Regions from separate parts of the Homo sapiens genome. Here region 2 is linked to region 1. The links come from fine-mapping of genetic effects on gene expression. Tissue or cell type: whole blood. Region 1 holds a variant in brackets; the other region holds the start of a gene. All regions are shown on one strand. Distances are from middle to middle.

Region 1 (2,757 bases):
AGTGTAATATAATTTTTTTCTTCTTTTTTAAAATATTCCCACTCAGCACTCAGAGACACAAAAATACTGTAAGTCTCAATTAACAGCAGAATCTCAGAGAAAAGCTGTTTGCAATCCAAATCCAGCCTTTGGAGGAATAGAGATGGTCAATTAACAATCAAAAAGAGGAGATTAACCTCTTGTTTTTTTACCACCTGGTGAATCAGCCATAACGCACACACACGCCACCCAGCCTCTTGTTTCTAGTATGTACTTTGAAATGCTAACTGAGGGTCTTGATGCTTGAGCCTTTGACTGATAAAACTCAAATAGCAGTCCCCAGTGATTTGCCTCTTAGGTTCTTTCTTAAATTGTTGGTGGATGACTGTACATTTTAGTGATTTGAAAAATAACTGACAAACCATTGAAACAGTTTATTTTATGTTGGAAGAGATGGCGCAGATGTGTGTCAGAAGGGAGATCACGGTGTGAGTTTCGTAGCTATTTAAGTGATACATACCTCTAGTTTTTGTATGTCTTTTGAGATCCTGAGTTCATCCCCTGTGAATCAGAGTGCACAAGCACCTCTCCTGTGAGTGGCTAATGAGAAGAGGGACAGACCGACCACCAGCACAGTAGGGCAGATCTGGACAGCAGAATGTTATAACGCAAGTTCATGTGTTGCTCCCAACTCCATTCTCTTTTCTCTCGTGCAACCAGTTTGCCCATTCTCTTCCTATTACTTGCTCCAGGGATAGGTAAAAAAAAAAAAAAAAAAAAAAAAAATATATATATATATATATACACACACACACACACACACACACACACATATATATATATATATATTCCATCATTAGAAGATGGAAACTATTATACCACTTGGTATGTGCAGTCAAATATCCAAAAGGGGGAAGTACTGCTTAGAGAAATATCTGTAAGCATTAAATTCTCTCCTTTATTTGTACATTTTATATAGATAAATTTTTAAAGTACTAATTAGGCATTAACTTTTTTCAAATGCACAGGTTTGTTGGTTTTTTTAATACACTTTAATTGACTTTCTCAAGCGTGCTAGGTAGAAACGCAGAATTCCACATCTTCCCGCTCTCAGCTCTGAGCATGTGCAAGGCTGTGTAGGACCCAGTTTCTCTGTATATACTATTCCAGTTCCCAGTCATCTATGTAGAAAGTGCACTGTGCTGCCATCGCCCTACATCTTCAGCTGTGTCATTGCTTCCTGGTTGGGGTGGGGACGGGGTGGGTCGGGAGGGAGGTATATTGGGAGGAGGGTGGGTCAAGGCAGAAGGAGAAGCTGTTGA[AATGAG/G]GGCCGTGAAATCAGTTTCTGTTGGTTTGCGGTTGTGTTTGGTTTTGTTTGTTTCTTTATAAAAAATTCAATCGGGCAGCTCCCTTTTCCACAAGCCTCTTTGTGACTGTAGAACTATTGTAGAAAAAAAAAGTTCTTTTCTATATTATAAAAGAAATTATCCAACACAGTAATATTGGTACCTGTCATTTTTTCACTTCTGTTTAAAAAAAATGTATTTTTAGCAAGATAACTTGGGTAATCTTCTAAAAAAGAAATTTAAAAACTCACTGTTAGTGACTTTGATGCCTTTTAAAATAAGAGCTTTTTCATTTCATTCCATCTTTAAAATTTTTTATCTTTGTTGTAGAATATTAAAAACTATTTTAAGAAAGATAAATTCTCTTTAAAGAGATCTCTAGCGTGTGTGAATAGAGCTCCAGATGCCTCTAAAAGCCGCATGTACAAAGGAAGCCACGTCTATCCTGTCTGTTTATATTTGCTTTTCCTGTTTTGTAACCTCTTTGTACTTTGTTCATGGTGACTTGTAAGCTAAGGGGAAGGGGTGCCTAGATGCCTTTGTATCTCTCCATGTCACGCGCTCCTGGGCCAGCCGGCCTCCCTTCCTCTCCTTGTATGTAATACCTTTTTTTCCCCTTTCTAGCAAGTACTTTCAAAAGAACTCTGTACATTTTAACATAAAAAATAAATTATGTTGAGCCATTTTGGATGTCTGTCTTGCATGTGGAATTTTTCTCCCTTCCCAGTATGTCAGAACTCTTCAATTCTTGTTCTACACCCAGAGACCTATAAACATTAGTCTTTTCATTTTCCTCTTTATTATAGGAGTACAAGTCCATGGCCTTTGCTTTGAAATTCCAGTTTTCATTTATGTCTGTGTTTAAATGCCAACAATATGGATGGGTTTTCCATTTCCAAGGAACATGGCACGGTAACCCTACTTTGGATTTTGTAGGGGCATTCATATAAAAACCTCCTAAAGGGATTTTAATTCCCGTCCCCCCCACTCCCCTAAAAAAAAGCAATTGCAATAACAAGTAGCTCCTAGACTTGTGATAAATGGGAGGAGTAATTTTTATAGATCTTATTTTATAATGTAACAGTATTTTTAAAAGCGTTGTGGGTTTTTTTTCATTTCATTTTACCTAATTGGGTAATCTAGGAAGATTCGTCATTCTCCTTTTGCCAGAATTCAAGGCCCTGAATGCTGATTACTTTTTGGTGGTCTCTTGGGTTGTGTTTGCCTCTCATCATTTAGAATTGTGGACAGGAGGCAGAGTCCAGAAAATTTGATTTCACTTTGGGAAATTGGCCTTAGTTTCTGGTGGTAGGCAGTGAGGCAGGTTCAAGTTTTAGCGGCCTCCACACTTCCTCTGCCCCTTCACACTGAGGAATTGAGGAACTGTACATGATACTACCTATAGCAGACATTTGTTCTGAATTTCATGCTG
Region 2 (2,500 bases), 120 kb before region 1:
GATTAAACATTTAGTGTCTTTTTCATGTCTACTGTCTTTCTAGTGAATGCAGAAAAAAAAAAAATGCATGACTTGGCCAGGTGCAGTGTCTCAGGCCTGTAATCCCAGCACTTTGGGAGGCCGAAGAGGGCGGATCACTTGAAGTCAGGAGTTCGAGACCAGCGGCCTGGCCAACATAGTGACACCCCGTCTCTACTAAAAATACAAAAATAAGCCAGGCGTGGTGGCGGGCGCCTGCAGTCCCAGCTACTCAGGAGGATGAGGTAGGAGAATCGCTTGAACCCAGGAGACGGAGGTTGCAGTGAGCCAAGATCGCACCACTTGCACTCCAGCCTGGGCAACAGAGCGACACTGTCTCAAAAAAAAAAAAAAAAGTATGACTCAGTCTCTGCATCAAAGAGTTTAAAGTAGATGAAAGGCAAGACAAAGAAACGTCCATACAGCCAGTAGTGGACAGGCAGGCCATGAAGAACCGCCTGCTCGTGGTTCCAACGCCCTAAGTATGGACAAGAGTTCCGCACAGGGCAAGAAGGGAAGACCGGCTTTGGAATAAGACAAATCTCAGTCCCAGGCTCAGGTGCGCGCCACATACTAGCTGTGTGACCTTGTCCAAGTCACACGACCCAGGTCTGTGGAGTCTCCCATAAAATGGCTCTAGTGAGCTCCAAGAACCCTCTCAGCTGCTGGGGGAGGGAAGAAATGAAGTCACTGCTGAAAGGGGTTAAGACGGGTGCTTCTGGTTCCACCCTCTCCCCAACTCTTCCCACCGACACAGGAGAGCCGTCGGGGGCTGAGGCGAGCTGCCAGGGGTGAGGACGGGAAGCCGCCTCCTCTCCGCCCCCCAGGCCCCGCCCTCGGGCTCCGGAAAGTCGCTGTGCAGGCAAATGAGTGGGGAGGGAGGGCTCACTAACTGTAAACAGACGCCGCCGAGAGTTCCCATCCTGCGTGGCTGCCGGATTTCCGTGCCACACTGAAGCCACCCCACCCAGACTCCTGCCCTCAGTTTCCCCAGCGGTGGCATGGGGTGCACCAGCTCCTCCTCTCCCGGGTCGCCGTCTGACTTAAACGCGTGAGACGGGAGAGGAGGAACCCCCGCTCCCCAGCCTCCAGCCCCACCAAGTCCTCCTCCTCCCCTGGCTTTGGCCTTTTGTACCGGCCCCACGTGACCCCGCCGGCCGGCTCTTCCCTGCTGCCCCGCCCCGCCCTCCGGCCTTTCCCGGCTCTCGGCCCAGCTCTTCCCGCTCTCGGCCGCCCCCCACCCGCGCTGCCGGGCCTCCGCCTCCCCTCGCCGCCCGCCCAGGCTCTTCCAGCTCCCTCCCCCAGGCCGCCGTTCCCTCGCGACGCTCCCCTCCCCCCGCGGCTGTTCCGCCGCCTTGCCTCCCCTCCCCCCGGCTGGAGCTCACTGTCTCCAAGATGGCGGCCGTGTCAGTTTGGGGCATCTCCGCGGTCCGGCCCGGGGCCCCGGGATCTCGGCTGTCCTTCCTCCCGGTAAGTAGCCGAGGGGCCGTTCCCGGCCGCCCCCGGCCGCCCAGCCCGAGGCCGAGCCGCTCCAGGGCCCACTCCGCTGCCTCGCGGGGTCGGCGGGCCGCTGCAGGCCCCGCCGCGGCCTGCGCCGCCTCCCGCTGCTCTGCGCCAGGCCTCGGGCTGGGGCGCCGTGGCCGCCCCCTCGCGCCCGCCCGCTCGCTCGCTCGCTTGCTCGCTTGTTCGGCGCCCGGCTGCCCCGGCCCGCGGCCCGCGCGCCGCCGCCCGGCCCCGCGCTCGCGGGCCCCGCGCCCCCGATCCCGCCGGCCGGGCCCGCCCTGGGGGAGCCGGCGGGTGGGCGGGCGGCGAGCGGCCCAGGCCGCGGAGCCTCGGGCTGGCGGAGCCGGCGAGCCCGCTCTCCCTCGGGGCGCGCCCACCCGCCCGCCGCGCGCGTGCCGGCTGTGCCGGGCCGGGCCGCTTCTCCCCGCGCTCGCGGGCGCTCGGGTTCGGGCTCGGGCTCGGGTTCCGGCTCCGGCTTTGGCTCCGGCCGGGGGCGCGGGGATCCGAGCGGGGCTGAGGCGGCGAGCGGGGCTGACAGGCCGGCGGGTGTTGTGGTGCGAGGCGCAGCACGTGTGGTGTTGTGTCTGCCGGGCTGTCAGCCCAGCCGCCGAGGGGAGGCCGGGCGCCTGTCAACCTCGCGGCTTGGCCCGGTGCGCGACTGTCAGGCTCCCAGCAACCCGCGCCGCCCTCGAGCCGGCCCCCAGAGCTTAGGGTGCGGAGCTGGGCCGGGGCTATGCACCGCTCTGAACTCCTTCACGTGATTTCATTGTTAACTTGTGCTCGGGGTCTGTTTCCATCGCGTGGAAACGGTGCAGCGCCCCGTCGGCGAGCTGCCGGGCTGTGCAGATCCAAGTTTTTAAAGTTTCTCGCTCTTTGAAAAGAGAGCGCGAAGACGTGTTTAGGGGTGGGGAATGGGGACGGGAAGGACTGTCGGAAGCGAGTTGCGCTCGCTCTAGCCGCTCGTGTACTTTCCGGGAGT

The links. PIP is the estimated chance that this variant, and not a neighbour inherited with it, causes the effect.
Region 2: it holds the start of KAT6A, and the variant in region 1 is fine-mapped to the expression of KAT6A in whole blood (INTERVAL, PIP 0.98).

What each region holds. Positions count from the first base shown.
Region 1 is chr8:41,928,737-41,931,493 of GRCh38, reverse strand. It overlaps KAT6A (lysine acetyltransferase 6A), which reads left to right. Exons shown (of 17, transcript NM_006766.5): 17 at 1-2,015. Among named protein-coding and RNA genes, the nearest start is that of KAT6A-AS1, 120 kb to the left of the region's middle. RefSeq lists a silencer at 129-423. The variant AATGAG/G (reference allele first, on the strand shown) is at 1,302.
Region 2 is chr8:42,050,889-42,053,388 of GRCh38, reverse strand. It overlaps KAT6A (lysine acetyltransferase 6A), which reads left to right and starts at 1,402. Exons shown (of 17, transcript NM_006766.5): 1 at 1,402-1,488. It overlaps KAT6A-AS1 (KAT6A antisense RNA 1), which reads right to left and starts at 1,639. Exons shown (of 2, transcript NR_136589.1): 1 at 1,404-1,639. RefSeq lists enhancers at 268-788, 789-1,310 and silencers at 759-918, 1,109-1,738, 1,839-2,308.